Linked DNA regions of Homo sapiens: regions 2 and 3 are each linked to region 1. Evidence: fine-mapped expression QTL. A gene starts in region 1. Each other region holds a variant in brackets. All regions are shown on one strand. Distances are from middle to middle.

Region 1 (8,255 bases):
ATATCAAATTAAGGGGGAAAAGTTAATACTTACTTAGAAGGGGGCTGTGTAACTGCGAGGGGCCCTGAAGCTTATTTCATAGTGAGTCCATCTCTGTCTGTCCTATAATAAAAACCTAACCAAACACAAAAGCTTCCCTTTGCTTTGCTATTGCAAACCATTATTCCATTTCTCTTTCTCAACACCCTGAAACTTTTCAAGAAAGTAGACTAGGTACATTCTCTTCACTTTAACATCACTTTGACCTCATGCCCACCATGCTATTGCAATGGTTTTCTCTGAAGCACCACTGACCTTCTAATCCCTAAAGCCTATGGCCTTTTCTTGGTCCTGAACTAACTTGTCCCTTCCATAAAAATTCAACATGAGTCATCCTCTGACTTCTTCAAATGACTCTTTTCCCACTCAAGCACCAATGGTGAGCCTTCCTCAGGGTCCCTTCAACATCCCAGGTTGTCTTCCCTCCCTTGTGACTCAATGATCACACCTATGGCATGGCTTCCACCATCACCCACCTGTGTGGCTGACCCAATTATGTGTCCTTTGCTCTGACTTCCCTCATAAACTTCAAACTTAAGATACAAACTCTCTACCTACGTTCCATCAGCACACCAAATTCAACATCTTTTTCTTGATGTGTCAATGGCATCACTCCCTCCCTGCCATCTGCTCTAGAAATTTCAAAGTGTTACTTTAAACAAATTTCCCCTCTCTCCTTCTATCCTCCCGTCATTTCTAAGATCTAGCAGTTCTACTCCACACTGATTCCCTAGTGTGGTTCTTTCTACTGCCATTTCCCGTACTTCAATTTTTTTCACTCTTGACTCAGACTGATTCAAAGGCTCTTCATTGTTTGCAGCTAAGGAGCCTCAGAGCTGAGTATGACTTGCCCCATTGAATTAATGGCAGGCCAGATGTAGAATCCAGGTCTCTTGCTTCTTTTCGGTGGCTGCATACTTCTAAGCCCACTATAATCCATTTTATATATGAATGCCAGATTAATCTTTCTTTTTTTGTTTTTTTTTTTGTTTTTGTTTTGTTTTGAAACAGGGTCTCACTCTGGTTGCCCAGGTTGGAGTGCAGTGGTGCAATCTTGACTCACTGCAGCCTCGACCCCCTGGGCTCCGGTGATTCTCCCACCTCACCCCCCGAGTAGCTGGACTACAGGCACGTGCCACCATGCCTTGTTAATTTTTTGTATTTTTAGTAGAGATGGGTTTTCGCCATGTTGGCCAGGCTGGTCTCGAACTCCTGGACTCAAGCAATCCGTCTGCCTCAGCCTCCCAGAGTGCTGGGATTACAGGTATGAGCCACTGTACCTGGCCCAGATTAATCTTAAAAGTGATTACTCCAGTGAAACCCTGTCTCTACTAAAAATACAAAAAATTAGCTGGGCGTGGTGGCGGGCACCTGTAGTCCCAGCTACTTGGGAGGTTGAGGCAGGAGAACGGCATGAACCCGGGAGGCAGAGCTTGCAGTGAGCCAAGATCGTGCTACTGCACTCCAGCCTGGGCGACAGAGCGAGAATCCATCTCAAAAAAAAAAAAAAGAAAAAAAAAGTGATGACTTTTGTCCAGGCGCGGTGGCTCACGCCTGTAATCCCAGAATTTTGGGAGGCCAAAGCGGGCAGATCATGAGGTCAGGAGATCGAGACCATCCTGGCTAACATAGTGAAACGCTGTCTCTAGTGAAAATACAAAAATTAGCTGGACACGGTGGTGCATGCCTGTAGTCCCAGCTACTCGGGAAGCTGAGGCAGGAGAATCACTTGAACCCAGGAGGCAGAGGCTACAGTGAGCTGAGATTGTGCCACTGCACTCCAGCCTGGTGACAGAGCGAGACTCCATCTCGAAAAAAAAAAAAAAGTGATGCCTCTCACCAAATGAAACTATTATACTATAGTCTGTGGCATGGTATTTCAGGGCTCAAAATCTGATCAAAAGTAATATCTCAACTTTATCTTTCTCTTGGCCCCTTGCTGTACTCTACAATCAAATGGGCTCTTGAATATCCTCTGAATATGGCCCTACTTTCATGCAAATAATTCATGGAATTAGTTTCTTCCTCCCCTGAAATGTAGTTCAGTAGTTTGAACCTCATATCACATATGATCTGATGTTGTCTTTACTTGTCTGTGTAAGACTATGGTGACTCCCCAGCAACCATTCCATCCCAGCAGGTTGGAAATCCAGAGTAATCCCATCTACTTCTCTGTGATTGGTTAGGGGTGGGCATGTGACACACTTCTGGCCAAGGACACACTAAGGGAAGTCTGCTGGGAAGATTCTTGGAAAGCTTCCCATGTGTTAGAAGGAAACATAGAAGAAAATGTCCTTTCTGCCTCTGGATATTTTCATGTCTGGATGTGAACTGCAAGAACAGCTACAGCCACCTTGCTCTCAACCCAACAAAAGAGATGGAAAGAATTTGGACTTTTGATGACATGAAAGCTCAGGTCAACCAATCCTGGAGACTGTTCTGTCTTTGGACTTCCTATTATGTGAAGTAATTTATTTCCTTATTGTCCAAGGCAGATTAAATCACAGTTTTCTATTATTTGCAGCCAAAAGCATCAGGAAACAATATTTTGTTTTTGATGCTAAATGTTAAGCTTCTTAAAATCAGGGACTGTATCTATGTATCTTTCTAGCCCTCTTACAGCTTGGCATGCAGCAGATGGATGCTCAAAAAGCGACTGTGAAATTAATATTTGTATATATTTCTGGGATACAACTAGTAAAAACACTTGCAATTTAAAAAGCTCTATTTTCTCACAGCAATCTAGAGGTAACAAAATAAAGCTTAGACAGATTAAATAGCTTGTTTAGGGAATTTTGTTTCTCGAAGTCATACCAACTTCTCAAGAGTTTGTTGCTCTTTGTCTCAAATCCTTATCTGGGAATGCCATGCCTGTTAGGGTCCCAAGAAACTGGGGACTGAAGGAAAAATAAAGTGGCAAGCCACTTCTGTGCTTAACCCAGCAATAATGCTAATACAGTAGCCTAGTTGTTTCTGGCTCAGAACCCAGGCCTGGAACCCCTTCTTCTCCCAGTCCCAGTGTATAGTGTGGTAGCTCTAGTGCTGGGGTCATGAATCCCCATAAGTACAAAATTTTAGATGCAGAAGTATTTTCCTGGGAAGATGGATCATAGCTTTTATTAGATTCTCAAAGGGGTCTGTGAGAATCTTAGTCTTCTTAAAGGCTAGATAGAAGTTGGGGTAGAAGATGGTAGAAGTTGGGGCATGGCCAGGAAAAGTTAGGGCTGGTTTGAATGATAAGAGACTGAATTTGTAGGCTGTGGGGAGCTACTAACTTACTGAGGTAAATTGGAAAAGTTTATTTGTCTTCTTAAAGGCTAAGGACTATAACATGATACAAAATCTCAGAAGTAGATGGAAATAAAAACTTTCAGTAGACTTAATGTGTCCCTGTGTTGTTCTGTATTTTGTCATCTAAGGGGACCAGTAGCCCAGGGATCTCTTGTAGATTAGGAAGAAAGAGACAGGTGTCAGGGTTGGGTAACTCTAGGTAAGACTGGAAAAGGAAAATGCGGAGCCCCTTTCTGAAAAATTACGAATTTCAAAATGGCGACACCAGAATATTAAACCAAGCTCGAAGCCCTTCTAAGCTGGGAGCACTGTGCAACTACATAGGTTGGACGCATATGCAGCTGGTCCTGCCTCTTGCACTTACGATTGCACACACTATTGTCTGCCAAATTGGGATGTATTCCTTTGGACTGCTATCCAGACCTTTATTCATTTTTTGAGCACCTACAATGTGCCAGGAATTGTGCTAGTGGTGGGGATTCCAGATAAGAGCGAGCATTCAATTCAATCATATCGGGTTTCTACTATATAACAGGTCTTGTTCTAGGTCCTGGGGATACAGCTCTGAACACATTAACACGGGGCAGAGACAAGGAATAAATGGGTTAAAGATCAGATAGTGACAGGTGCCCAACAAAAACTTAGCACAGGACGATGTGACACAGGGTGACTATTTGAAATGGGTTGTGGTGGGGGGTGCCGGAGATGATATTTGAGCTATGAGTTTAGTGAAAATAGTGGGCAGCCCTAGCTCCATGGGGGTGTGGGTGGGGAGGGTTATCTTAAGCTTGGGAAACAAGGCAAAATAAGGAAAGGGGGGAGAGAGAGACTATATACGGCAGAGTGAACACAGGTGGTAGCTAAGGGAAGGGATGAAATCATGGGACACCTCCAGGCAACAGCCTCCAGGGGCTAAACCATCGTCTTGGGTAAATGGATGGTTTGAGAGCAAAGGCGGGAGCAGCGAGTCCGGTGAGAAGGTCCTCACAGGAACCCAGGCTGGTGAGAAGGTCCTCACAGGAACCCAGGCTAGCGAAGCGGTGGCTCGGACTAGGGTGAAAGTAGCGGAGGTAACGCTGGGTGAGCCGCACCCGCGTCTCCCACGAGGTCCCCCCAGTGAGGTTAGCGGGTGCCGCGCCGAGCGCCAAGCTGAGGAGCCGCCCCCAGGGGCTGGCGCTAGTCTGCAGCGGCGCCGACGTGGCCGGCGCGATCCGCCACGCACGTGTCCGGCTCCAGGCCGGGGGCGGGGGCGCGCGGGGGTCTCCGGCTCCTCCCCGACTTCTGGGGCCCGGGCGCCAGCTGGCCCCGAGCCTCCAGTCCGCGGGTGCGAAGAACGGAGCAGATGGGTCGGGAACAAGGGAGCTGGGTCAAGGCGAGGAGGGGGCGGCCGGGCGCGCGCGCTCTGGCCTCGTGCACGCGCTGAAACCGGAGCGCGCAGGGCGCGCCAGGGTGAGGGGGACGGGGGCGGGGTGGGGGCAGCCCTTTCCCAGGCGGTAGCGGGGGCGGCGTCGCTGTTGCCCTTTTAAGCCGCGGGGCCGCCGCCTCCTGCCGCTGGAGTCGGTTACAAAGGAAGCGCCACCCAGGCCGCCACACGCCGAGGCTTCCGCGCCCCTCGCCATTTTCCAGCAGCGCTCGACGAGGCGGAGCCGCGAGAGCGCGGCCCAGGCCGGCCCCGCGGGGCGGTCGCGGCCGTGACGGCGGCTCCGGGCCCGGCTCCCCTTCCGCGCCCGGCTCCCCTTCCGCGCCCCTCCCGCCGGAGATGAGGGGAAGATGTCCGTGTCAGGGCTCAAGGCCGAGCTGAAGTTCCTGGCGTCCATCTTCGACAAGAACCACGAGCGATTCCGCATCGTCAGTTGGAAGCTGGACGAGCTGCACTGCCAGTTCCTGGTGCCGCAGCAGGGCAGCCCGCACTCGCTGCCGCCGCCACTCACGCTCCACTGCAACATCACGGTGAGGCGCCCGGCCGCGGCCCCGCGGGGCAGGGCGAGGACGGAGAGGGGGCGCTTCGAGTCCCGGGACAAAGGGGAGCCTGCCCCGGAGAGGCTCCGGCTCCCCGGGCGGGGCAGGCCCGCCCCTTTCCCCCGCGACTTGCCCATCCCAGGCCGGGCTGGGACTGCGCGAGGCTTGGGTGGGAGGAGGCGGAGGGCGCGTCTTTCCGGCTTCTCGCCAGGGGCTGGCTTGGGGGCTTCTGGCCCATCTCGGTCCCCGTCTCCTAGCCCCGAGGGGGGAGTCCGCGGCGGCCCAAGCCCTTGTGGGGTCCATGGCCGCCCTCAGCCGGCCTGCTCCCGGGACCGGGGCGGGGCGGGGCGGGGCGGCGCAGCTCCGGCTGTTGTTTGAGCCCAGGCCGGCAAGGGGAACGGCCCTTAAGTTTTAACGCCTCATTTTTCAGTCGGATTTTCCTTCTTCCCGCTTGTTCAGCCAATTGTTTTTAAGTTTGCGTTTAAGGAGAAACTGACAATGAGAATGGACTCGTTGACGGAGGAAAAGTTGGAATGCAGACTCTGGTGCTGTTTGAGCGACCCCTCTCCCCCGGGCCTGGCTGCGCGCTGCTGTGTTCTGGAAAGGAGCATAGTACCGTCGTTGCGGCAGGTGGTGTTGAGTGTGTATTCGTGTGGCCCCTCCCTTGTGTGTAAGCCTCGAAAATGGATAGGTGAAAGGAGATACGCGCCAGGGCTGCTCCCCGGAAAGATCACGTATGTCACAAAGCCGAAAAGACACTTTTAAAAACTCACTCATTAAGCGGAAATCTCATTAGAAACCCAAGGCTTGGTAAAGGAATTGAAGTATTAAGTTTCTCCATAAAAGTGTATCGTGAAGCTATTCGTCGTGAAATTGATGTAGGATATTGGTCCAAACTGCAGAATATTCTCTTGGTTATAATAGGCGTCAAGGTGGTGGCTTCGGGCTCCTTTTCAAACATGGCTAAAACCAAGTCTTGTTTTTAACTCCCTTTGGTTGAGTCAGTGGGTACTCAAGTGCCTGCAGGGTGGCTGGCGTTTGCAAAAACCTTGATGTTATAATTGACCTTAAAATGGTTACCAGACTATCTGGGCAGAAGGTGTGTTAATTTCAAAAAAAAAAAGACAAGTGCTGTACTGAGGAGATAATTCATTTATTGAATGAATACGTCTGAGTGTTCTGGGCACTAGTGTTGCAGAATTGAGTGAAGTCGTCCTCGCTCTCAGAACTCAGTCTTCTTGGGGGAAGAGTTCAATAAGGTGACAGCTCCTGTGGTATCATCAGGAAAGCCAAAGCAACTAATTTTGACTTGGGGGAGGTGCGCTTCAGGGAAGGCTTTGATGAGAGGCTGAGACAGTTAGAGATGAGCTTCCACAGGTGACTACAATTTTGGAAGGCTGGCGGAAGGGCATTTTAGACTGAGGAAACTCCACCCAAAGAAGACACGGAGATTTGAGAAAGTGTGGTTTCCTTAGAAGTAGAAAATTTATGCTAAGACTTGAGAAGCCCACGATACAGGCTGGAGAAGGGGAGGATTTTCCAAGAGTGGAAAACAGAAAGTGTAGTAGTTGTCATGAAGCAGGTGTTTTAAGGAGACGGGCCTGAATGGCTTCGAGGGTGATTACTCTGGTAGAAGTTGGGGCATGGCCACGAAAAGGTAGGGCTGGTTTGAATGATAGGAGACTGAATTTGTAGGCTGTGGGGAGCTACTAAGTTTACTCAGGTAAGTTGGGAGAATGTATCTTTCATCCAGGATTAGAAATGGTTCTCTACAGTGGGTGGCATTAGGAAATGTGGTTATCCCAGTGGGGGTGGGGTGGTCTTATTGCTGTGCCGGCATTTAGTGCTAGGAGTACAGGGATACCAAATGTTTTGCAACGTTCAGGCAGTCTGCCACAGCAAAGAATTATCCCACCTAAAGTGCCACTGGTGCCCCATCGAGAACCATATTGAAGGCTGGTAAGAGTCTGCTGCAGATAAAAATAAGGAGTGATGACCTGGATTAGGCAGTGGCAACAGAAATGGAGCAAGAAGTGAATGAGACACTTTCAGTACAAGGAGGATTTAGTGAGGACTAGTGTAATGGCACCCACCGCTAGGTAGAAACTATTAAAATTGACTTGCTAGTGAAATATGACAGACTATCAGGAGATAATTATCATGGCAGCTGCTCAGTACAAATGTCTGCTAACTTTTTATTATGGAAAATCATCAAATGTACAAAAGTTGAACAGTGTAATGTAGCCAGCCTCAACAATGATAAACTTTTGGCTAATCTTCATCTGTACTCCACTTTAGATTATTTTGAAGCAGATTCCAGACAGATCACTTCATCTGTAAATATTTCTGCTTGTATCTTTTGAAGGTAAAAGACTCTTTTATTTTTTATTATTATTTTTTGAGACGGAGTCTCGCTGTGTCGTCCCAGCTGGAGTGCAGTGGTGTGACCTGGGCCCACTGCAACCTCCGCCTCCCAGGTTCAAGCAATTCTGCTGCCACCGCCTCCCGAGTAGCTGGGATTACAGGTTTCCGCCGCCACACCCGGCTAATTTTTGTGTTTTTAGTAGAGACGGGGTTTCACCATGTTGGCCAGGCTGGTCTTGAACTCCACCTCAAGCTCCCAAAGTGCTGGGATTACAGGAGTGAGCCACCGTTCCTGGCCGTAAAGACTCTTTTAAACATGGATGACTGTTTTGATAAAATGACATGGCTTGTTCATGTCGATACCATTTGCTTAGAAGGGAAAGATCAAGGGAAAAATGGGGTTGGATTTCAAATGATTTGGTTTGATCGATGATTTGTTATTCTCTAAAGTTGTAACTCTGGAAAAGGTAATGAGTTTGACTTATTCTTTAACTTTTCCTCTTTAGACAGTTCAAATATTTGAATTCTACATGCTAGGACTTGTTTTCTTTATACTTACCAAGAAACATCCTTATGCAGTTTCTCTAATGTTTGAGAAACTA
Region 2 (8,255 bases), 120 kb before region 1:
GCTCCAGCGCACACAGGCCTGGCCTTTGCTCAGCCGTAACCTAGGGCTGGAACTCCGGACCAATGCTGAGCAGCATCATGCCAGGCAGACTGGCAGAAAGTCGAGGTCCCTGTGTGCCTTTGGAACTGACCCCTGACCACCTCCCACTGTCTTGGAACAAAGGCTGCTGGACCAGCTGTGCCTGCTCCTCAACTGTCCCCTCTCCAGCTCCTCAGCAAGCTCACCCAAGGCCCTGAAGCCTCAGTGCTGAACAGAGCTGACCTGGGCCTCTCTGGCATCCTCAGGTCTGGCTCGGGCCTTCTTCCTTCTGCCCTCCAACCTTTCCCATGACTTTGCTTGGCCAGGCATCCTTGGTGGCCATCCCTGACTGCCCCTACCTCCCTGGCCACATCTCACCTTCCTCCAGCAAGCCCTCCTAGCCCTCCTTCGTGCTCGTCGACTTCTCTTTCAAAAGATTCCCTGGAATCCTGATCTCCGTAGCTCTCCTAGTTTCACCTGGGGCCTGCTTAGCTGGGTCAGGAGGTGTGCGTCCATGCCTCCCCAGCCAAGCATGGGACAGAGCACAGGGTGGGAGGGAGGAGGAAAGAAGGAGGCTTAGAACACACTTATAAGAAGGAAGAAGGATGTTCCCACCCAGGGGCAAAAGAAGATTCAAACTTCTCTGAAGCTACAGTGACCTGTGGTATGTGCTGCCTCCATTTCTCCAATTGTTCTTGGAGAACAAGACAACAGAGGGCCCAGTAATACTCACCTCCCTGCCAGCAGAGTTCACCCAACCATGCTGGCCAAGCACTGCTGGTCACTCCTACCTCTAGTGCTTCTTGGACTAAGAGTCCCCGCTCTGGGCAGTGGCTGTGGTTTGGCCCCACCCTTGGCCAGGGTGTTTTGCACCCTCGTTGCCTGGGCCCCACCCAAGAAGCCTGTGGCCAAAGCCAGCTTGCTGGGAAATGGTGTGTGCCTGTGCCCTAGATGGGGTGGTGCCTAAGCAGGGGTGTGCTCCTGCTGCCCAGGGCCCGCCCTCAGGGAATTGGCCCTCTGCCATGAAGGTCACAGAACCTAGGCCACTACTGTGCAAGAGGGCACGGGCTTTAGGCGCTGGCTCAGTGGCCCTGCAGTTTTCTGGCCAAGAGCTCCATGGCAGCGGGCCCTGGGCCTGGGCCTTTGACCTGGGGCCTCTGTTAGGAGTGGTCCTGATCCTGCTTCTGGCAGAGGCACACACAGGGCTCCTCCAAGTACAGGCAGCCAGGCTCAGGATGGGAGGGAGCAGCCAGTCCCAACAATTACACAGTTCGGGAGCTGAAAAGTTATGTTTGCCACTCTCAGGAGCCAGCTGTGGAAGGGAGGCCAGTGGAGGGCTTTGCCCTGGCCTCTGAGCCACACACAAGCCGTGCTGGGAGGACAAGGGCCGGGGGTGGTGAAGGACCCTCTTGGAGCCTTTGCTTTCCAGGAGCAGGCACTCGTCTTCCATATCACACTCACAAAGGCTGGTGGCTTCAGTGGCTGTGACCAGCTGGCCACAGCTGACTCCTCTGGGGTAGTGCTGTTTCTAAATATTAGTTCCTGCTGTTAACCCTTGCTGTGCGGCCCCAGTGGACAGCCGGCTGCCTGCAGACAGAGCCTCTTGGAAGTAGAGTGGACAGTCCCCACCTGGATGAAAAATTTGTGAGTATATTTGCTTGAGGGCTGGGTTGGGGCTCCCAGAAGGAGGGTGAGAAATACCTGCTTAGGGCTGGGAATGAGGCTTGCAGTAGATGTCAGGGGATGTGGGTCTGAGCTGGCCACTGGGCAGGGCAGTGGAAAGAATGTGGGGTCAGGAGCCAGGAGCCCGGTCCTGCCAAGCCTTTTTTTATGTGGCCCCAGACAAGTCACTTCGCCTTTCTGTACCCCTTTCCTCATCCGTAAAATGTACAGCCACCGAGGTGCTTGGATGATGGCCTCCAACAGAAGCGCCGGAGCTTTATAAACTCTGAAGTGCCTGGTGGTTATGATGATTTTTATGCCAGGGTCCTGCTGTCTGTGACTCCCCCGAGTCCCTTGGAGGAGAGGCAAGACTGACAACCAAGAGACAGCTGGAGCAAGCTGGCGGGGCTGCTGTTAGCCTGTGTGGAGCTTTAGTGGGGACACCACCCTATACAAGAATACCCAGCTTGGAGTTCAGCCCCTACTGGCCCCATTGGCTCTTGTCCTTGCACAGTGAAAAGCCTAGTGGTAGCCAGGCTCCAAGATGGCCCTCAGTGAGCCTCACCTTCTGGCATTCATGCCCTTGGGTAGCTCCCTCTCATGTTGAATACAGCCACCTTATGCAGCCAATAGGGTGTTGCAGAAATGATGAAGTGACGTCCAAGATGAGGTCAGAAAAGATATGGTAGCTTTTCCCTTGCTCTCTTCTGATTGCAGCCACCATGATCTGAGGATAATTAAGTAGACTGTGGAGGTGCCAATGTGGAGAGGAACTGAAGCCTCTTGCCAGCAGCCAGTATCAACTCACCACTCATGTGAATGAGCCATCTTGGAAGTGGATCTGCCAACCCTAATCAAATCTTAAGATTAATACAACCTCTACTTTTTTTTTTTTTTTTTTTTTTTAAGATGGAACCTAGCTTTGTTGCCCAGGCTGGAGTGCAGTGGTGTGATCTTGGTTCACTGCAACCTCTGCCTCCCGGATTCAAGTGATTCTCCTGCCTCACCCTCTCGAGTAGCTGGGATTACAGGCATGCACCACCATGTCCAGCTAATTTTTGTATTTTTAGTAGAGACGGGGTTTCACCATATTGGTCAGGGTGGTCTTGAACTACTAACCTCAAGTGATCCACCCGCCTTGGCCTCCCAAAGTGCTGGGATTACAGGCATGAGCCACCGTGCCTGACCTCTACTGACACCTTGACTGCCACCTCCTGAGAGACCTGGAGCCAAAACCACCCAGCAAAGTCACTTTTAAACTCCTGACCCACAGCAACTGTGTGCAACAGAAGGAAGTTGCTGTTTCAAGCAATTATATTTTGAAAGTAATTTGTTATGCAGCAAGAGATTACTGATAGAAGCCAGCACATCGTAGATGGCAGTCCAGTGAGTCAGACCTGGCACGTGCCTGGGGCTCAGAAAGCAGGACTCTGCTTCCATGAAAAGAAGTGACATTCCTTGATCAACAAATTCATTCATTCAACAAATATTTCTTAAGCACAGATCATATGTCAGGCACTATGCTGATGCTGAGGGCTGGGGACACAGGTGAATAAACAGGACCCTGGTTTTGGGGAACTGACAGGCTCCCCAAAGTGACTTGGCAATTGGTTGGATGTGGGAGTTGGGATAAGGGAGGTGTCCAGGACAAGCCTAGGTTTCTGGCTTGGGCACTTAGAAGGGTGGGTGGTGGTGTCATGGATTGAGATGGACAGGGACTGGGGGGTATCTCATAAGGAAATCTTGGGGCATGTTGATTTCAAGGTGCTTGTGAGAAACCCAGGTGACACTGTGCAGGCGGCTGTATATGTGAGCCTAATGCTCCTAAGAAGGTCTAGTCAGGGGAAGTTTTACTTCCGGATTGCTGGGGTATCGATAAGGGAATTAAAGCAACCAGAGGAGATGAGGCTGCCCGGGAGAGAGGAGCGCGGTGCAAAATGGGAGGAAGACCCAGCACTGAGCCCTGAGACACCAACGTCTCTTCCTTAAAATGTTTATTTTGACATAATTTCAGACTTAGATAAAAGTGGCAAGATGATTACAAATGTTTCCCACATACTCCACCTAGATTTCCCAAATGTTAATTGTTTACCACATTTTAAATTCTTTTCTCTCTCTCTCTCTTTTTTTTTTTTTAGATGGAGTCTCACTGTTTCCAGGCTGGAGTACAGTGGTGCATTCTCAGCTCACTGCAACCTCTGCCTCCCAGGTTCAAGCGATTCTCCTGCCTCAGCTTCCCGAGTAGCTGGGACCACAGGCACGTGCCACCAAGCCCAGCTAATTTTTTGTATTTTTTTTTTTTTTTTTTTTTTTTTTTGGAGATGGAGTGTTGCTCTGTCGCCCAGGCTTGAGTACAGTGCAGTGGCCCCATCTTGGCTCACTGCAAGCTCCGCCTCCTGGGTTCACGCCATTCTCTTGCCTCAGCCTCCCGAGTAGCTGGGACTACAGGCGCCCGCCACCACGCCCGGCTA[A/AT]TTTTTTTTTTTTTTTTGTATTTTTAGTAGAGACAGGGTTTCACCTTGTTAGCCAGGATGGTCTCGATCTCCTGACCTTGTGATCCGCCTGCCTTGGCCTCCCAAAGTGCTGGGATTACAGGCGTGAGCCACCGCACCTGGCCAATTTTTTGTATTTTTAGCAGAGATGGGGTTTTACTGTGTTAGCCAGGGTGGTCTCTATCTCCTGACCTCGTAATTTGCCCGCCTCGGCCTCCCAAAGTGCTGGGATTACAAGCATGAGCCACCACACCCGGCCATCTCTCTCTCTATTTTTCTGAACCATTTGAAAGTAAGTTGCAGACATAATGCTCCTTTATTCCTAAATATTTCAGTGAGTTTTTCCTCTTTTTTAATTTTTTTTTTAAAATGAGACAGGGTCTCGCTCTGCTGCCCAGGCTGGACTGCAGTGGTGCCATCAGAGCTCACCACACCATCAAACTTCTGGACTCAAGGGAGCTTCCTGCTTGAGTAGATGGGATTACAGGCACACACCACCGTGCCTGGCTATTTTTTTTTTTCTTTTTTGGTAGTGACAGGGTCCCACTGTGTTGTCCAGGCTGGTCTCGATCTCCTGGGCTCAAGCAGTATTTCCTAGAACAGGACCTTCTCTTTCATAACTGGAGTGCAATGATCAAAACCAGGAAATTAACATTGGTACAATACTTTGAACTAAGCCATAGACTTTTTTCTCCCCAGCTTTGCCAATTTTCCCAAAAATATCCTTTATAACAAAAGAAAACCTCGGCTTTCTTCTGAGTGTCTATTCATCTTGCATGGTTCTTCAGCGTTTCATTGTCTTCCATGATGTTGCCATTTTTGACAAGTACAGGCCAGTTCTTTTAGGTGAATTTTGGTTTGAGTTTGTCTGTTTTCCTCATGATTAAATTCAGGTTCTGTATTGTGGCAGGAATGCCTAGGAAGTGATGCCGTGCCCTTCTCACGCAGCCTATCAAAAGACACATAACTGGCTGGGCGTGGTGGCTTACACCTGCAATCCCAGCGCTTTGGGAGGCCAAGGAGGGCAGATTACTTGAGGTCAGGAGTTCGAGACCAGCCTGGCCAACATGGTGAAACCCTGCCTCTCCTAAAAATACAAAAATTAGCTGGGCATGGTAGCAGGCTCCCCTAATCCCAGTTATTCAGGAGGCTGAGGCAGGAGAATTGCTTGAACCCAGGAGGCAGAGGTCATAGTGAGCTGAGATCACGCCACTGCACTCTAGCCTGGGTGACAGAGCAAAAGACTCTGTCTCCCCCAAAAATCCCCCACAAAAAAACCAAACAAACAAAACCAAGAGGCACACATCTATTGTGCAATCATTGGGATGTTGACTCGTATCACTTGGTTGAGGTGATGCCTGCCAGGCCTCTCTTCTATAAAGTTACTGTTTCCCCTTTGCAATGAATAAGCATACGCCAACATTGAAAGGTCAGGTTGAGGAAGGAAGGAAGCCAGGAAGAAAGCCAGTGCAGGGGCAGCCGAGAGACAGAAGGAAAGAAGGAGGGCGTCCTGGAGCCAGCAGGAGGGGCAGCATGAGTGAGGCAGGGCTGGCATTTATTGCATTAGAGGATGAAGAGTGTCCCTTGGAAGCAGCTGCCACCTGCAGGTGGCGGGCGTCGAGTTAAGCCTCTTTCGGGTGGAGCAGTGGGCCTGGAGCCAACTCAGGCTGAGTCAAGTGTGAGAGGGAGGTGAGAATGGAGATGACTGGAAAACACCTCTGTGGGGAAGGTGGTCTGTGGGCTGGGCAGAGAGGGACAGGCAGTGACGGAGAAGCATGTGGGCTTGGGGGACAGTTTGAATAGATAGAGGGGACTTAGGATATCTAGAGTGTGACAGGAGGGAGCCAGATGAGAGGCGCAAGTCCAAGGAGAGGGGTGCAATCCACAGTGTCCCAGGCGGGACGTGGGAGCCGATGACAAAAGACATGGCGGTTCTGAGGCTGTGATGGGGGGTACTCGTCAGAGCCCAGCCTGATGGGGCAGGTGGATGGGGGGGCCGGAAGGATGGCCAGGCGAACAGAGGAGAGTGAGCCATGCAGGGGATGATCCCTGGGGGTGGGGGAGAGGGGGAGGGCAGGCTGCCCAGAGGTGGGGGTGGGTGGCAGGTGGCGAGGAGGGCAGGTCCAAGGTTCTGGCCATGAGACTGTCCTGACAGCTTTAGCTGCCTGATGCAGATGGACAACGCAGACCTGGGGGACGCAGTGCTGGGATGTTCCAGGAAAGGGGCTGGATGAGGAGGGTGGTGAAAGCTGGAGGGGCCTGAAGGATGACGCAGAAGTGCAGGGAGTGCAGGGTCAGCACTGGGGTCTCAGAGATGGGGGGCAGGGGATGGCCTCCCAGAGAGACTGGCTGTCAGTGCTGTGGGAGGTGGTGAGAAGCCCAGGATTGCAGTGGGGGACCGGCCTGTGAGGGAGTGGAGTGGAGGTGTTTGCACATGAGGAGGTCTGGGAACGGGGAGGCCAGGGCATTGGTGGTGGTCCCTGGGGAGGCCTGAGCTATCAGGGTCATGGCAGGAGTTGGGGTGGGGTGGAGGTGGCCTCGAGCCACGGCTGCTAGGTTTATGAGTAGGGACCCAGGGCAGCCCTGAGGAGCTGAAGGGGGACACACCTGGATGCCAGTGCCCCAGAGGAATGGGGCATTTGATGGGGAGGGCACAGTCTGGGGACCAAGGCAGCCAGAGACCCACGGCACTGTGGACTCTGAGGCATGAGGGATGTGAATGTCGGAGCAGCCAGCTTTGGACAGGGCCGAGGGCCACCTCCAGGGGTGAGCTGGGTCTCCATCAGAGCTGGAGGAAAGGAAGCATTTGGAACAAATTGGAGTGGCTTGTGACCTGCTGGGGTGCGGGGTGGCCTAGTTTCCTGAAGAGCTGTGCACCAGGATGATGGGGCAGAAGCAGTGAGGGAGGAAGGCAGGAGGCTCCCCGGGCCTGAAATACTTGGAGACTGCCCGCTCACCAGGAAGGTGGGGGTCCCAGCCCCAGATCCGGCCCCTCTCAGCACTGGGATACCATCAGGGCTCGCAGCTTCCTACAGGAAAAGCTGACGCGGATGGGGCTGAGGACATAGCATTGGCCCTGGCCTGAGGCCAGTGAGGCTGGGTCACCCCCCAGCCTGGCTCAGCCCTCCCTTACCCAGAAATCAGAGGTTTACTTGCCCCATGGGCATATGGGGGCACACAGGGTCTGCTGCTGGGGGGACTGGGCCCCTGTCCTCTGTTCTGAGGCCTGTGGTCCCTCAGGGGCTTCTGGACACCCTGCATGCCTGTCCTACCTGCTGCTCTGAGCCCTCGCTGTGCCTGCTGACTGGAATGCGTTCAGAGCATGGCTTGGTTTCTATTCAATCAGAGACTATGATCCAAGGAGAGCCCTGGGTTTTGTGTCCTGGTTCCATCTCTGCTATTTTGATGTAGTAGGAGACTTTGGGCAAGTCCTTGTTCCTTTCCGGGCCTCAGTTTTCTTAACTGTGTACTGGGGTGGTGACAGACACCCCTGTCTAAAGCCAGCAGTCATCTGGTTCCTGAGATGGACACCGCTGACCCGGTTCAGGTCAAATCCCTAGTCTGTTACGAACAGTGGAGGTGACAGGCCCCAGGCCCCCAAAAGCCTCCTGGGTTCTTAGGAATGAAGAGGTTCCCAGCATGTTTTCAGGCCTGGGGCTCATCCATCCGTCAGATGGGGCTGGCTGCCTTCCCTCCCCTTCTATGTGTCCTCTCATACCGCCCTCCAACTCCAACTGCTCCCCTGCCAAGGGAGTGCTCTTGGTCACAGGCACAGGAAGCAGCCCCTTGAAGGCTCAGCACCACCCCTCTGTCCTCCTTTATTTGCTTCCCACTCCTTTTTGTATCCATTGAGCTAGACATGGATCTCTAAAGATACCACACCCTGGGATAGGATTCTGGGGAGGAGCTATCAGACAGTCACACCTTAGTGATAATTGACTTGATATTTTGCCAGGGGAAAAATAGACTTGACAGAAGAGAGGGCATGTCCAGAGCCTGGGAGGTAGGTGGGAGAGGCAGGGGGTAGAGAGCCCCCAGGGGGCTGTGTGTGCTGCACAAACCCTTCACCCGTGACCCACCAACCCT
Region 3 (8,255 bases), 34 kb after region 1:
CGTTACAGGAGAAATTAGGCTATGTTAGTATTTCAGTGGCCTCTTAATATTTTGCTATTTTGCACATGCAGATTTTGTGTTTATTTTTGTGGCTGCAAGGTTGAAATAGGTATCCTTATGCCTAAATTAGTGTTTATAGTTTAAACTAGTTTCTTAGAATACAATTCTAGAAGTTGAGTTTCTGGAACAAACTAGGAACACTTAAGGTTCTTGACACCTGCTGCTAAACTGTTTTAAAGGTTCCTCTTAATAGGAGATTTAGAAGATGGCTTATTTGGTAATAGTTATGATTTTGTAAAGCTTTTAAATCTGCTTTACCCAGAGTCTAGATTTTAAATAAAATATAGGATATAAAAGGTGGGAGCCTCTTGAATGGAATGTGGGGGCTTTTTCTCTCTCCCTATAGGATAGTTACATTTTGTTTCTTGTTCCTCATTTGAGTCAAGAATAATTTAATGTTATTTTGGCATAAGAAACTGCTGAAGAAAAATAGGTTGAATAAGCTAACATTTTTCGTCTCTTTGTAGGATATAGAAGACTTAGATCACTATGAGATGAAGGAAGAAGAGCCTATTAGTGGGAAAAAGTCAGAGGATGAAGGAATTGAAAAAGAAAATTTGGCAATATTAGAGAAAATTAGGAAGACTCAAAGGCAAGACCATTTAAATGTAAGTGTGTGTAGATATCTAGAACCTGGACTTTTGTGGTTAAATAATTGTAGTTAATACCAGGCAATTCATTAACATGCCCATCTCAGCTGCCCTCTTCCTCCATTTCTGCCTTAGTGGTGGATTCAGTCATGTGTGTTTTAAAACAGGGTCTTGCTCTGTCGCCTAGGCTAGAGTGCAGTGGCACAATCATAGTTCAGTGTAGTAGCCTTGATCTCTCAGGCTCCAGTAATCCTGCTGCCTCAGCCTCCCAAGTAGCTTGGACTATAGGCACATGCCACCATGCCAGGCTAGTTTTTTTTATTTTTAGTAGAGATGAGGACTCTCTGTTGCCCAGGCTGGTCTTGAACACCTGAGTTCAAGTCATCCTCCCATCTTGGCCTCCGAAACTACTGGGATTACAGGCATGAGCCACCGTGCCTAGCCTTAGTCATATGTTTTGTTGCTGTAGATTACGTTTCTTATCTATAGATAGCCACTTTTTACCCTGTTCATCTGCTCTTCATATCCTGGAACCACCTGCTGATCCCTGTATTTGCCCCTTCCCGGCCTGTTTATGCTGTTTTCTCTGCTTACCTTCCTCTCATGGGATCTGTATATTCAAATTCATCCTCTCCGACAAAATACAATTCAAGTTCTTTCTCCTTCGTGAAGCTGACTTTGGTCTGTCCTGCTCTGACCCAACCAAAAGTAATTTTTCTCTTTTGACTTAACATCCTTTTTTTTTTTTTTTTGGATGAAGTTACGCTCTGTCTCCCGGGCTGGAGTGTGGTGGCATGATCTCAGCTCACTGCAGCTTCCACCTCCCAGGTTCAAGCAGTTCTCCTGCCTCACCCTCCTGTGCAGCTGGGATTATAGGTGTACACCACCACACCTGGCTAATTTTTGTATTTTTAGTAGAGACAGGGTTTCACCATGTTGGCCAGGCTGGTCTTGAACTCCCGACTTCAAGTGATCCACCTGCCTTGGCCTCCCGAAGTGCTGGGATTACAGGTGTGAGCCACTGTGTCCGGCCACAACTTAATATCTCTTTTACGTGAAGCAGCAGGATGTGAAAAGAACACTGAGTCTGGTGACAAACACACAATTTATGGTTTCACTTTCCTCAGCTCTAAAATATGGCTAGACAGTACATACCTTTTGGATGATTGCTATCAAAAATAAATGAAAATGATGTGTGTATATATATAAAATGCTCAGAGTAGGGAAACATCAAATGATTGTCTGAACACTTACTACTTTTTGCCTTGTGTTAGAGCTATTGACCAACTCCGTGAAATCTGAGTAGCAGTTACTTTGTCTTGGGCACAGGTTCCCCAAAACAGGGAATGAATTGTTAGGTAAGTAGATGCCAAATGTTGAAAACAGGTAGATTACTCTCCCTCCTTCAGTCTAATTTATATATTAATCTAATTTATAATTTTTAGTAGAGCAAAGAAATTTAGTCAAGCCCCCATATCTTGATTACTTAAAAAACAAAGTTTGTCATTTGAATTAATGATGACTGTACTTTATGTCTTGTGATCGATTCCAGTTTGAGTTATAGTCAAAACAACTATAAGTTACTGAACACTTTTGCATGATGGATACTATGCCAAGTACTTTATACTTCACATATCTTCACATTTAGTCTTCATAGCCACCGTGTGAAATAGGTATGCTTCATATTTTAGAGATAGGAAAAACTTCTCATATTTTGTAGATATGAAATGAGCTAGGAAACTTGATTTTTCCCCCCTTCAAAGTATAGTGCAATGTTTAAAATCTTTAATTTCACGTGACCAAAAAATAGTTCCGTTTGTATTTAGTCTTATGATAAGATATTGATGTGTTTTCATCTTTAGAGATGTCCCTGCACTGAAAAACTGAAACCAGTCGCATGTAGGCAGATGTTTCTCAGTGTCTTAATGTGCGAACTAGACCATCTGTGTAATATTCTTGTTTGTAGTCTTATGAATGGAACTCTATTTTAGTAAATAATGTGTCACCTTGAGTGTCTTCTAGTATTTTCAAAAATTGCTGGGGTTTGGAATAGACTCATACTGAATTCTTTGTTATTGTGGAATCCATGGTGGTCTGGACATGTTGGCTAGACTTTTTCACATGAGAAGAAATAGGAAATGAACTAGACTTGTGCCTAGTTTTAATATCCTCTTGAAACTTCATAATGCTTCATTTAATTGGGCTTTTTTTTACTTCTTAAAATGTTGAGGTTGGGCACAGTGGCTCATGCCTGTAATCCCAGCACTTTGGGAGGCCGAGGCAGGCAGACCACGAGGTCAAGAGATTGAGACCATCCTGGCCAACATGGTGAAATCCCGTCTCTACCAAAAAAAAAAATACAAAATTTAGCTGGGCGTGGTGGTGCGCACCTGTAGTCTCAGCTACTTGGGAGGCTGAGGCAGGAGAATCTCTTGAGCAGGGAGGCGGAGGTTGCAGTGAACTGAGATTGCGCCACTGCACTCCAGCCTGGGTAACAGGGCTAGACTCCATCTCCAAAAAAAAAAAAAAAAAATGTTGAGTGGTGATCCATTTTTGCTGTAATCTTTTAGATCAGGTTGAAATATCTTAAATCTTAGCTCAGCAGACCCTGGTAAACAGTGGCTTTTGTGTTTCAGGGTGCAGTGTCTGGGTCAGTGCAAGCTTCAGATAGACTTATGAAAGAGCTCAGGGACATATACAGATCACAGAGTTATAAAACAGGTAAGGATCTCTGGATCCCTGCTCTCTTTATGATTCTTCTGCTCTTTTCTATTGTCAGATTATAAATGTCATTTCTTAAAACTGGACAGAAATGGAAATGTTTACTAGCTTTATTTCAGGAATGTGAAACTCAAATGCAATCAAGTTCCAAAAGATGTAGGAGTAAAATAGGATGAGTTTACTTGTCTTTTGGATTTTTAAAAAATGTTTTTATAGGTCCATTGGAATTTTGTCCTCTTCTTGATAAACAGTGAACTCTTACATGATTTTTATCTTCTGGGGAAAGCATGAGCGATATTGCTTGGAAAGTAAATAAGAGTAAAACATTTCATTTTACAGAGAATAATTGCCAAGTTGATTTTTATGATTCCCCCCCATTTTTGAAAGCAAGATAATCAGCTTTTATTGTAAAGATAGTTATGTTATTACCTTTAAAATATATAAGTTTTTAAAGTTTTCATTTCCTTGTTTGACGAGTATTCTTACTCAATATGACTTGAATGTTATGGAACCTCTCTAACTAGAGGTAAAATTCTCATATTGTTATGGAGATTCTAATAGTATTAAATAATGAGCCAAACTTTAATTTGAAAAGATAGCATTGGTTGGGTG[C/T]GGTGGCTCACACTTATAATCCCTGCACTTTGGGAGGCCAAGGTGGTCAGCTCACCTGAGGTCAAGAGTTCAAGACCAGCCTGGCCAACATGGCGAGCGAAGCCCCATCTCTACTAAAAATAAAAAATTAGCCGGGTGTGGTGGCGCACGCCTGGTGATCCGAGCTACTCAGTGGTCTGAGGCAGGAGAATCACCTGAACCCAGGAGGCAGAGGCTGTAGTGAGCCAAGATTGCACCACCGCACTCCAGCCTGGGCAGCAAGAGTGAGACTCTGTCAAAAAAAAAAAAAAAAAAAAAAAAGGGTTATGACCGATTCAATTCTAGCATTATGACCGATTCAGGAATTCTTAGCGTGAGCAAATCAAAATTAATTAGAATTTGCTTAAAGAATAAAAACAAGGAAAAAATCCTTGCTTTGTAGTGTGCAGGATAAGCCAAACTTGTTTCTGAGTTGTTAGAATTGTGGGTGTCCTTACGGTTTTTTGTGTAAGAAGTCTAAAAGTTTATCTGTAGAAACCTAATAAAGTACAAACATTTGAATACTGGTTTTATTTTTAAATGTTAAATAATCATTTGTTTCAGCATTGTTTATATAGAAAAAAAAAAACAGATACTGGGTGGAATTTGTTAAAGCATATCCATAAAATAAACTACCACAGAGTCATTAAAAAGATTGTGAATAGGTTTATGTATACTAACTTGGAAAGATGTCCCTGAAAGTTGAAGAGAGATTATAAAACAACATACGTAGAAGGATTCCATCTTTGTAGAAATGTGTGTTCATGGAAGAAAAGTCTTAAGTACATATGATTTTGCATAATCTTTTTTTCAGTCAGACTAAACGGTAAGCAGTTTTTCAACTCATTAAAGAATCTTCTCAGTTGATGGCTGTAATTATCTGTTAAGGGCATAAGATACTCAGCTGCAGTAGTGTAATATTTACTATATAGCTTAGTTGTTCCATGTTTTAAGAGCAAAATTTCTAGCTTTCGTTGGCTATTTAGTGTATACATTTATACCATAGTAATAGTTATATGATGAAATGAAGAGTAGCTAACATGCTCTATATCTTAACAGGGATTTATTCAGTGGAACTCATAAATGACAGTTTATATGACTGGCATGTTAAACTGCAGAAGTAAGTGGCTTTTTAATGCTCACCCACTCTTTGCAATGGTAGACTATCACAGTGGAGGTTATTTTCCTTCTAACTTGATACCTTTATACTATGGCTTTTACTTAGAACTTTAGACTTTGTTTCTATAGAAATAGTTCTTAGATTGTTTAAATGAGCTGTTGCTGAGGTCTAATAAGAAAGTGAGAAAGAGGAAGGACAGAAAGAGGGACCAGCTGCGGGATAAAGTGTTTTATGGAGTTAGAGCAGGGGAACTTAAAAACAAAAGTGTATTTAATAACTTCATGAGACTGTGATAACCAGTTTATATTTGAAATATATACAGCACTTTGGGAGACTGAGGTGAGAGGATCTCTTGAGCCCAGGAGTTTGAGACCAGCCTGGGCAACATAGCAAGACTTCATCTCTACAAAAAAAAAAAAATTAGCCAGGCATGGTGGAGTACACCTGTAGTCCCAGCTACTGGGGGTGGTGGGAGGCTGAGGCAGGAAGATCTTGCACTCCAGACATCAAGGCTGCAGTGAGTCACGATCGTATCACTATATTCCAGCCTGGGCAACAGAATGAGGCACCCGGTCTCTTAAAAAAAAAAAAAAAAAAAAAAAAAAAGTTGGGGGGAGGTGGGATTCAAATTAGACCTGTATATATAGGACAGTTGTAGACAAATACAGGTTTTTTTAGTGATTTAAGTTTTCATAGTTCTGACCATGGCAAACTTTTCTCCTTGAACCCTTTGGCTAATAATGTAAGTTTAATATGCTTTCCTAAACTTTTTTTGAGTTCTTGAGAAAATTATATTCATGTGACTATTTTCCTTTAGAGTGACTGCAAACTCTGAACTCCTTTACTAGATTAGATTTAGAGTATTATGGTCTCTTTTGGACATTTATTCCCAAGGAGCTGGAACCTATGGTGACCTCTATTTTTCCTGGTGATACAGAGCAGCTTTAGACCTTCTCTTTCTGGAACTTGCCCTAGGTGCTCTATTTTAGCTGTCATACTAGTTCATTTTTGAGTTTAGTTAAAAAAAAAAATCTCTAACTTTTTATTTGAACTGTTTTTTGTTTTGTAATTCTTAGGGTTGACCCTGATAGTCCTTTGCACAGTGATCTTCAGATCTTAAAAGAAAAAGAAGGCATAGAATATATTTTGCTTAACTTCTCTTTTAAGGTAAGAAAATAGTTACAGGACCCCATATACTTCCAGTGGGGTGCGTATATTTGTACAAGTGCTTTGGAAAACAATTTGGTAAAGTAGAAGATACTCATACCCTATGGTTCAGGAATCTCGTAGACATATTCTCCGTTAAGACGTGAGTACTTAGGCGTACCAGGAGACACAGGAATGTTCAGAGCAGCATCGTTTATAATAGCACCAAATAGAAAACCCAAGTGTTCATTCCAATAAAATGGAGAATTGTGGTGTTTATAAAGTGGTTTACAGCTATGTGGGACAAGATGGGTGGATCTTGAACACAGTTGTAAAAGAGACTGGACTCCAAAACCTATTTTGTACAATTCCCTTTATATACAGTTCAAAAATAGGTAAAACTAATGTTGATTAGGGCATGCATTCTTAGTGGAGGCAATATCACCTGCAGTGTAGTGAAAACTGATCTTTAGAGTGAAAACAATCTTAGCTATTAAAATGGTCTGCTGCCCTCCAAAGGGCCACAGAACATAAACAGATATACGATTTATCTATGGTGTTAAAATTCCATGGAGCAGGGGGGTAAAACTAGGAAGAAAACTTCTAAAAAGGCTTCTTAGGGGGGCAAAAATGAAAAGAAAACTGAGAAACACTTATTTATGGATTCATACGTGAGCAGTAAAACTGCCCAAAGAGGAAAACTGTCCAAGAACAAAGAGGTGATTACATACAGGTTAGGGTAAGGAGTCCATCTAGGTGGGAGGTAGGGAGGTGTGAACTGAAAGGTATATCTGCGCAGGCTTCTTGGATACTGGCTGGAATATATTTCTGGGCCAGGTTGATGGTTACATGAGCACATAATTTACAATAGCTTCTTAAGGTATATCTCTATATTTTATGTACTTTTCTGAATTTATGTGTTATATTTAATAAGGTTTTTTTTTGTTTGTTTGTTTGTTTTTTGAGACAGAGTCTTGCTCTGTTGCCCAGGCTGGAGTTCAGTGGCACAGTTTTGGCTCACTGCAACCTCTGCCTCCTAGGTTCAAGTGATTCTCCTGCCTCAGCCTCCTGAGTAGCTGGGATTACAGGTGCATGTCACCATGCCCGGCTAATTTTTTTATTTTTAGTAGAGACGGGGTTTCACCATGTTTGCCAGGTTGGTCTTGAATTCCTAACCTCAGGTGATCTGCCTGCCTCGGCCTCCCAAAGTGCTGGGATTATAGGTGTGAGCCACCACACCTGGCCTAATAAGTATTTTAAAGATGCTAAAAATAATGGTTAAAGAATAGCAATGGAATCTAGAAAAAATGTTAATGATTTTTTTTTTTTTTTGAGACAGAATCTTGCTCTGTTGCCCAGGCTGGAGTGCAGTGGCCCAGGCTGGCGTGTGGTGGCACAATCTTGGCTCACTGCAACCTCTGCCTCCCGGGTTTAAGCAGTTCTCTGCCCCAGCCCCCCGAGTAGCTGGGATTATAGGCATGTGCCACTATGTCCGCATAATTTTTGTATTTTTAGTAGAGATGGGGTTTCACCATCTTGGCCAGGCTGGTTTTGAACTCCTGACCTCATGGTACACTTCCCTTGGCCTTCCAAAGTGCTGGGATTACAGGCGTGATTTAATATGGATCTGGATGAGATGTAATGGTTTAAAATCTGTGGATATATGAGATATTTTGATGGAAAAAGCAATACTTCCTTTGTACTTACAAAAAAGGTAGTAATTTTCTAAAAGCTTCTTACGTAGCTTTTTTATGTGTGTGTTTTTGCTTGGGGATATATCTTATGATTGAACTTTCTTGAAGTGACCCAAATGTCAGTATTATCTCTCACTTTTGTTATTATAGAAACTGTTGTGGTTGTCAACTGGGTTGTCTTCCTAAAATATGAGTCTGGTATATATTGACTGAAGTTGCTAATGGCTACATTTTTACTAATTCATATGGGGGAACGAATAAAGCACCCAGGCCAAAAACAAAAAACAAAACACA

Direction of the effects. Positions count from the first base shown, and alleles are read on the strand shown. Sizes are in standard deviations (SD) of each study's normalised expression. Not every link is listed here.
For the expression in NK cells of the gene that starts at base 4,881 in region 1, AT is the high allele of the variant in region 2 and A is the other (moderate effect, 0.60 SD a copy in Gilchrist 2021).

The links.
Region 2: its variant is fine-mapped to the expression of UBE2Q2 in NK cells (Gilchrist 2021, PIP 0.95).
Region 3: its variant is fine-mapped to the expression of UBE2Q2 in blood mononuclear cells (TOPMed, PIP above 0.99). The same link has a PIP of 0.9 or more in whole blood.

What each region holds. Positions count from the first base shown.
Region 1 is chr15:75,838,567-75,846,821 of GRCh38, forward strand. UBE2Q2 (ubiquitin conjugating enzyme E2 Q2) reads left to right here and starts at 4,881. Exons shown (of 13, transcript NM_173469.4): 1 at 4,881-5,280. The coding sequence starts at 5,101. RefSeq lists silencers at 4,462-4,641, 4,682-4,821, 4,962-5,041, 5,292-5,691 and an enhancer at 4,963-5,860.
Region 2 is chr15:75,715,477-75,723,731 of GRCh38, forward strand. No RefSeq gene overlaps it. Among named protein-coding and RNA genes, the nearest start is that of CIMAP1C, 4.4 kb to the right of the region's middle. The variant A/AT (reference allele first, on the strand shown) is at 4,152.
Region 3 is chr15:75,872,901-75,881,155 of GRCh38, forward strand. UBE2Q2 (ubiquitin conjugating enzyme E2 Q2) reads left to right here. Exons shown (of 13, transcript NM_173469.4): 5 at 528-668; 6 at 3,287-3,371; 7 at 5,061-5,121; 8 at 6,198-6,288. Among named protein-coding and RNA genes, the nearest start is that of FBXO22, 27 kb to the right of the region's middle. The variant C/T (reference allele first, on the strand shown) is at 3,984.